3 separate regions of the Homo sapiens genome follow, and regions 2 and 3 are each linked to region 1. Evidence: fine-mapped expression QTL. Tissue or cell type: whole blood. Region 1 holds a variant in brackets; each other region holds the start of a gene. Each region is shown on its reference strand, or each on the opposite one. Region 1 overlaps HMGXB3 (HMG-box containing 3). Region 2 holds the start of CTNND1 (catenin delta 1). Region 3 holds the start of PHPT1 (phosphohistidine phosphatase 1).

What was found. PIP is the estimated chance that this variant, and not a neighbour inherited with it, causes the effect. A credible set is the group of variants that fine-mapping cannot tell apart.
Region 2: it holds the start of CTNND1, and the variant in region 1 is the best candidate, but not a certain one, in a credible set for the expression of CTNND1 in whole blood (TOPMed, PIP 0.85).
Region 3: PHPT1 starts here. The variant in region 1 is the best candidate, but not a certain one, in a credible set for the expression of PHPT1 in whole blood (TOPMed, PIP 0.64).

The regions. Positions count from the first base shown.
Region 1 is chr5:150,016,720-150,019,479 of GRCh38, forward strand. It overlaps HMGXB3 (HMG-box containing 3), which reads left to right. Exons shown (of 20, transcript NM_014983.3): 6 at 1,847-1,978. Among named protein-coding and RNA genes, the nearest start is that of HMGXB3, 17 kb to the left of the region's middle. The variant C/T (reference allele first, on the strand shown) is at 1,155.
Region 2 is chr11:57,760,624-57,763,383 of GRCh38, forward strand. CTNND1 (catenin delta 1) reads left to right here and starts at 1,179. Exons shown (of 21, transcript NM_001085458.2): 1 at 1,179-1,496. The region is part of intron 2 of TMX2-CTNND1 (TMX2-CTNND1 readthrough (NMD candidate)); the gene reads left to right.
Region 3 is chr9:136,847,772-136,850,502 of GRCh38, forward strand. PHPT1 (phosphohistidine phosphatase 1) reads left to right here and starts at 1,638. Exons shown (of 3, transcript NM_014172.6): 1 at 1,638-1,819; 2 at 2,242-2,366. The coding sequence starts at 1,660. It overlaps AJM1 (apical junction component 1 homolog), which reads left to right. Exons shown (of 3, transcript NM_001080482.5): 3 at 1-1,030. RefSeq lists silencers at 580-809, 1,030-1,089, 1,170-1,249, 1,430-1,489, 1,880-1,959 and 1 more and an enhancer at 1,610-1,889.

The DNA.
Region 1 (2,760 bases):
AGAGGTGGTTTAAGCCATTTATATTTAATGTGATTATTGATATGGTTACATTTAGATCTATTATTATTTGTCTCATCAATTTTGTTCTGCCTTCTTCTGATATAAGTATTTTTTATGGATCTGCTTTCTTTTATTGGCTTATTAGCTATTGACTTTGTTTTGGTTATTTTAGTAGTTTCTTTAGGGCTAAAGTACATATTTTTAACTTATAAGTTTATCTTCAGAGATCTCTACTGAGATAAACAATATGTTGTAGATAATAAAGCTGCAATATTTTAAAATAGGAACAGCCTGCAGCTTTGACTCATGGAGAAACTGGTTATTTCTCCTGAGTCTTTATTCTCCTGGAAATTACTGTTCTTTCATGCTCTAATAAATGTCAGCCAAGCACTTCTAGAAAAGTGTTTTATGATTAATACTTAGGACTGAAACGTCATCCTTGAACATTAGCACTTTTTTTCCTAAAGTCATTTCTCTAGCCTACTTAACAATGTTAAGAATTTCCAAGTCCATGGTAATTTACTTATGAAACTAACCTATCTTAAATTTTTACTCTGCTTTCTTGAGGTGTTCAGAATGAGAATTATACATTGGCCATAACCTGAGAAAGGATCAGAGATGTTTTATATTCCACTATTAATAGTCTCTCACAAGCATGTAGAATCTAAGTGAATGTTTTCTCATTTCTTATCTCACTTTCTCAGCAAGACACGCCTATAAAATAGGAAGAACAGGCGATTTTACAGAGGAAGAAACTCAGGGCCCAAGAGTTAAGGTTCCTTACCACCAGGTCACTCAGTGTATTAGTGGCAAAATTGGAACCCAAAGCCTGGTCTTCCTCTTTTTGGTGCCATACCACTTCACGCTCATCCTTGACTTAATACCACTGTCATAATTGGAAGCCATAATTGAAGCCTTTTCCTTAGGCTTCCTTGCAGAGGTAGCTAATGGTAGTTTGGTGTTTCCCCAAGGAAGCTTTTTGCGTTTTGGCTGGGCTAGGGAAGCTGGGATTAATAGCTGAGTAAACATTCATATGTGACAGAACAAATATGACAGAGAAATGGGTTTTTTTCCAGCCTTAATCTAGAAGCGGAGCATGACTAATGAATGAGTCGTTTTTATTTGTAGCTGAAATATTATAACCCATAGTAATA[C/T]ATTTTGCTCAAAGGGAGATCAGTGGAGATGATAAGAGCCAGTGGCTATATATATTAATATGCAAATAACTACATTCTGTTGAGTATCAAAGGATAGGGCCTGGCTTATAGTCCTGAACTGCCCTTATTTTTTCAGTGACCATGGATCTATTTTTATTCTGAATCCCAGGTCCTTGGTTGTCTGAAGAATGAAGATGAAGCAAATTCTTTGAAGTATTTAGAGCCAGAGGGTGCAGCTGGATGCATAGAAGGAATGTTGGGCCAAGAATAGAGAAATATGGGTTCTAGGTCTAGCTCTGCCCTTGATTGATGATTTGAGGCAAAGCATTTAAACCTCAGTAGTAATAATACGTACTTAATACGATTGCTGAGAGTATTAAATGAAATATTGGTAAAGTGTTTAGCATTGTGTGGTGCCTAGCTCAATGCATAGCAACTATCACTTTCTTCATTCTTCTGGTACCTAACTGTAATGTTGGGCAATTGTCTTTCCCCATTTGAACTTAGTTTCTCCATTTCTAAAGAGTGAATTTGTTGTATTGTAGGACCTTTCCAACACTGACCTTTTATGATATGATTATGAATTGGTTATCTTTCCACAAGCTTGTGACCTCCTGGTGTTGCTGTGATTATAGTGGTCATCAGTCTGAGAGAGGTTGTTCTATTGATTCTGATGTGCTCTTTATTTACAGACCACTACATATACCCGCCGGGGCCATGGGACATGCACCAGCCCAGGGTGCTCCTTTACATATGTCACCAGGCACAAGCCACCTAAGTGCCCTACCTGTGGTAACTTCCTAGGAGGGAAGTGGATCCCAAAGGTAAGGTCCATTGGCTGTTGCTGCTTTGGAAGCCTCACAGAATAGACTTTCTGTTTGCCATTAGGAACAGGTGATTTTTAAAAAGTTAACATTTGTTTTTACTGTCTGACTATACAAGTAAATCATTTCCATTGTATATAGTTTGTTTAAAAAATACAAAAGAAAAATGGAATAAATTGTTATCCAAACTCATATACCATCCAAAGAAAAGCCATTATTAACATTTTGGTGTACTTCTTTCCAGTCTTTTTTTCTGTGAATAAGTTCTGTATCTGTTTTTTTCTTCTTCTTTCCCTTCTTTTTTTTTTCCAGTAGAGATGGGGTCTTCCTTTGTTGCTCTGGCCTCAAACAGTCTCCTGTCTCGGCCTCCCAAAGTGCTGGGATTACAGCACTGTGAGCACTGTTTTCCCTTTTATTTTTCTTTCTGTTTTTTCGTGGATATCTCCAATACTATAATATTTTGCTTTTTTTAATTTAACATATCATGCCTTTAAATAGTCTTCAAAATAGTACCTGTTTCATAATTTCCATGAACTACTACACCATGTTTATTTACTTGTTTCTGTCATCCCCCCGTCTGTATATAGAGATGTCTGTATCTATATGTCTTTAACATTTTTATTTAACACTCATCATCAGTTAACAATGTTTCTGTTTATGTCACATTGTGAGTTCCTTAATGACCTTGGTATCTCCCACAGCCTTTGCCCATAGAAGACACTCAATAAATAAATGAGCATCACTGCTGTGCCCTTCTGAAGTTCCGTTTAACATGTTGTCAC
Region 2 (2,760 bases), not on the chromosome of region 1:
TCAGGCTGGTCTCGAACTCCTGACCTCAGGTGATCCGCCCACCTTGGCCTCCCAAAGTGCTGGGATTACAGGCGTGAGCCACCGCGCCCGGCATAAAATGTTCTTGACATGAGATTTACTTTCTTTACCTATGCTGTTATTCCCTCTAAATATATTGCTTGTTTATTGGATTTCATTTCCTCTTTCCAACAAACCCACATTATTTTGATTTGGGGACAAATTGGGAAGACAGTGATTTTCTTTAACAGCCCAGTGGATTCTGCTTCCTTCTAATTCAAAGTATGGAGATTAAAACTGTTAACAAGTCTAGGCATTAAAAAAAAAAATAGCTCTAGATGGGGCGTGGTGGCTCACGCCTGTAATCCCAGCACTTTGGGAGGCCGAGGCGGGTGGATCACCTGAGGTCAGGAGTTCGAGACCAGCCTGACCAACATAGAGAAACCCCGTCTCTACTAAAAATACAAAATTAGCTGGGCATGGTGGCACATGCCTGTAATCCCAGCTACTCGGGAGGCTGAGGCAGGAGAATCGCTTGAACCTGGGAGGCGGATGTTGCGGTGAGCTGAGATCGCACCATTGTACTCCAGCCTGGGCTCGAAACTCCATCTCAAAAAAAAAAAAAAAAAATAGCTCTAATGCAATTAATCCAAAACAGTGAAACTGAGTTTACCTCAGATATCCCCTACCATCCCAGTCAACATATAGTAGTCCTGTTTTTAGGATTTCTCTCTCCTTTCTTTCCCGTCTTCCTTTAGGGAAATGCTTTGGGGTAGGAAGCAACAAACCAAACAGCAGCAGGCAAGTAAAATCAGCTCTTTTCTATTTCCCCACTGGGATAGTACAGAAGAGGGAGCAAGAACTCATCATCAAAGAGAACTGAGACTTAGGCGTACCATTCTAAAAAGCCCTTGTTCCTTGTCTCCCTTGCCTCTTCCGCCCCCCTCAGCTCTGCAGTAATTCCTCAGAGATTGTACAGTCTCTCCACTTTAAATATAAATATATAAATATAAATATATATATGTATAAACTTCCCCCTGTCTTTCTCTCCTCTCTTTTTTTTAATTTTCTATAATAAAGTTTCCTATTGGATAAGGTCAGCTCCCTGATTTATGCCTGGTTCCTATTGGAAGCTCACAGGGGCTGACATCACTTAGGAAAGCGAAGGGGGTAGGGCTGCCAGATCAGTTTGTCACCACCCAGGCTCCCTTGCCTTTGGCTGGGTGCAACTTCCATTTTAGGTGTTGGATCTGAGGGGGAAAAAAAAGAGAGAGGGAGAGAGAGAGAAAGAAGAGCAGGAAAGATCCCGAAAGGAGGAAGAGGTGGCGAAAAATCAACTGCCCTGCTGGATTTGTCTTTCTCAGCACCTTGGCGAAGCCTTGGGTTTCTTTCTTAAAGGACTGATTTTTAGAACTCCACATTTGAGGTGTGTGGCTTTTGAAGAAAATGTATGTACTGACGGGAAAAGGAGGATAAGCAAGTCGAATTTTTGTCTTACGGTAACCGGAGGGAATTAAAAAACGGGAGAGTCTGTTATGCTGATGAGTAACTTTTAAGCAATTATTTTTCTTTTCTACTTTCAGTACTTTGGCGGGGGAGATTTTGGTATTTTATTATATTTAAAAAGGTAAAATATACAAGACCTAGAAACAAACTTCTAGGTCTCTTTAATACAGGAAGCTGAATAGATCCAGAGGGGTAAGAGCAGGTTTGAAAATTTACATTTTGGTGTGTTCTTTGATTTTATTTATTTATTTTTCTGGATTAAGCTAACATATTTCTGTTTTCAGAGCCCAAATCAAAAGTTGGTTTTTTGGCATGTTGCATGTGGGTTGGGAAAGAAATTTGTCCGTGTCGGAACCCAGTTATACCGATGGTTCTTCATATGTTTAAAACTTTTTTTTTCTTTTATCATTGGATTTGTGGAAGTGGAAAGTTGCAGGGAGCTTTGCAGTGTAAATGGTATTGTTTTTCCCCCAGAGAGTTTGAACGGCCCGTATCGGTTTCAGCCCTGCTGTTCCTGGGTGGATCCCTCTTACTTTTCCAGGTGCGGTGGGTGGGAGCCTCATTCTCCTGCTAGATGTAGTCTCCCTTCTTTGGCTTATAAAAGAAAACAAATGGAACCATGTTAACTGAATTGCCATCTCCTTCTTCCTTCTAAACTACCTTTGATAGCAAAGATTTGTGGAGGTGTTTGTTAAATCTGCAAATACGATAACGTTTGGTTTATGTGTTTAAAGGGATAAGGAAATTCTAATCATGCTTTTTATTTCACCTGAGTAAAGTGGCAACATACCTGAAAATATTTTCAGCTTTTTGCACTCTGAAAGGGCCAAGGGTGGAATAAAATTAGGTTTAGAAAAACCATTTATACAAAGTTTAGTGTTTAAAATACATTTCAGAAAACAAGGGAGATTTTTATTTTTAAACCAACCTGAAAGTTGTTTTTTGGAGTTGAATTTATTGTTTAGTTAATTTACCATGAAATCTGAAATCTCTTAGAGCTGAAGGCCCATGACTGTGCTTTCATATCTTATATTTAATCTTAAGATTTGTTTTGTTTTTGCAAATACATTCTTGCAAAAGTACGGATTCTAGATAATTATATAGCCAACTCATCAGTAGCTGAAAAACTAGGGTATTCTCTTCTCTTTTTGAAAATGTGAATCCGCCTGAAAATTATAGATGCTGTCCTAATTGTAACAAGATGGGCTTTAGTGTGTAAGCTGCTCATTAGCTTTAAACTGGTATGGATCTTTAATA
Region 3 (2,731 bases), not on the chromosome of region 1:
AGATCCGGTCCCCGTCGGTCCGCGGGGCTCTCGCTGGAGCCTCCCCGACTCCGGTTTCCCCTCGTCCAGAAGCCCGACGTAACCAAAGCCCAGTCTGTCACTTTAAACACGCCCCGCCCCGCCTCCCGCGGCTGTGTTGCCTCCTCGCTGGAGAACACCCTGGTCGACCTCTGTGCGTCCGTGTGCGCGAGCGCGTCCCGCCGAGGCGGTGGGCAGGGCGGACGGTGCGCAGTGCGTTCCCGCTGGTCGGAGCCAGCACACTAACCACGCCACGCGCCCTGCCGTCCCTTCGCCTCCAGCCGCTGCAGTCTGGGCCCTGCAGGAGCTGGGAAAAACCGCAGGGAGGTCTTCAGGCCGATATGCAAGTCTCCCAGCCGAAGGGGCAGGGGACCTGAACAGGGGAAGCAGAGCACCTGGGCCTGGCCAGAGCTGACACCTGGCTAGGAGAGGAAGGACCAAGGGACGGGGCGTTCCCAGGTGGGAGCCTGGAGGGCAAAGCGTGGTGCGAGCAGGTGAGGGAGAGAGCTAGTTGGTAAGCGTGGAAGCCCACCCGAGGGGGCTTGACCTGTCCCGAGAGGTCCCCGCACACCCGCTCTGGCCGCACGCCGTACTGCGGGCGTGGAGGCGCAAGCCCGGCGGCCCGGCCTCCACCTGTCCCCCAAGTGCACCCTGGTCCGCGCCCAGAGCTCTCTGGAGGGTGGGGTATGCGGGAGAGGGGTGGAGGCCAAACGCAAGGGCCCTCCTGGAGTCCCCAGCCCTACTTCGGAGCCAGGGGAGGGGGCACCAAGTGAGAGAAATTGGGCACCCCCGCCTCCGCTCCTGCTTTCGCACCCGGCACGCCCATCTCGTCCCCGCGCGTCTGCACCGGCCAGGCGTCCCGCTTGCCCACCCGCCGCCGCGCCCCGCGCCCCCTACCCCAGGGCCTCTGCATTCGGCCCCACCCCTGAGGGCCGGCCGGGAACGCCCCTGGACCGGAATAATTTCCAGGGGGCAAGAGCTTTCGAACCAAGTAAAATAGAACTTGAATGTAGCGGCTGCCGTTGCCTCCTTGTACCGGTAGCGGGGTTGGGGACGGAAGCCTTCGGTCGGTGGAGAGGAGAAAGGGAGAGGCCTTCGGGCGGTGGACGGGGAAGAGAGGGAGTCCTTCGGGCGGTGGAGGGGGTGGAGAGCGAGGCCTTCGGGCGGTGGAGAGCGGGGAGGGGGGAGGCCTTCGGGCGGTGGGAGGGGGAGAGAGGGAGGCCTTTGGGCGGTGGGGGCCACGGGGAGGGTGGTCTTCGGACTACGTGCGGGACAGGAGGTCAGGGCTGGCAAGTCCCTCAGGCCTCCCTCGTTGCCCCAGCCTCGCGGGCCGCCTAACTGCCCCGTTCCAAGGGTGCCACCGGACCCCGCTGGAGAGGAACTTCTCCGTTGGCTGGATTTCATCACCACCCATTCCCGATTCCACGTTTCCTTTAAGCGGGGCTGGCGGAGCCGCAAGGCGGCAAGGAACTGGATTGCGATTGGTCAGCACGTGCCTCGGTCGGCGGTACAATTGGCTGAGGCGCTGGGCCTTGGGAAGCATTCCCCGACGGGATTGGTCGTCGCTCTCGCAGAGCCCGCCTCCCGCAGTACAAGCGGCCCCCGGGTCGGGTGGGAGGAGGGGACTCCGGGAGGAGGAACATGGCGGTGGCGGACCTCGCTCTCATTCCTGATGTGGACATCGACTCCGACGGCGTCTTCAAGTATGTGCTGATCCGAGTCCACTCGGCTCCCCGCTCCGGGGCTCCGGCTGCAGAGAGCAAGGAGATCGTGCGCGGCTACAAGTGGGCTGAGTACCATGGTGAGGGCGGGACCTGCGGGCATGCCAGGGGCACGCCTGGCGAGGCGGGGGCGGGGCTGGCGGGACGGAGACGGGGCTGACGAGGCAGGGGCGGGGCTGGCGGGGCGGGGGCGGGGCTGCGGGCCGTAGCGGACTGCGCTCTGCTCCGAGTCCTGCCCCTGCTAGGTTTGACCCAGGCTGAGGTCCTGGGCGGGAAGGGCGTGACACGGCCTGACACCCTCCCCAGCAGTCTCCCAGTTCCCGCGCCCTCCCCGGTTCCACCCTCCTTCGCTCATTCATCCCTGTCCCAGCCTCAAGGGGCTTCGTCTCTCCTGGGGAAGGGGCTGTTCAGAGCTGGGATTTCAGACCCCTTCGGCTGGGAGTTCCTCCCGCGGCCTCCAAGGGCGGCCAGGGCACGTCCTGAGGCCGCCCTCCCATCCCAGCGGACATCTACGACAAAGTGTCGGGCGACATGCAGAAGCAAGGCTGCGACTGTGAGTGTCTGGGCGGCGGGCGCATCTCCCACCAGAGTCAGGACAAGAAGATTCACGTGTACGGCTATTCCATGGTGAGCCGCAGCCCCGTCCCGCCCTGCCGGAGGCCCCAGTACCAGCTTCGAGGCCCACCTGAGCCTGCTGCCCTGACCCGTGGCCCCAGCTGAGCACGCAGGCTTCCTGGGGTTCTCCCAGGGTCGGCGGCAGAGCCCTCCCTCCAGGGCCCATTGTGTTCCTGCATTCCCCCATGGAGCACACGCCAGACCTGAGGGGTGGGACGGACACCCCCAGACATGGCCGGCTGTCTCCTCTCCCTGCCTTGGGAGGCCTTGCTGGGCTCTAGCTGTCCTCCAGCACTTTGGGCCCTGGGCCCCCAGAGGCAGTCAGTACCTGGGTGGAGCTCAGAGTCCCCACCTGTGCTCTTCACAAAAACCACCAG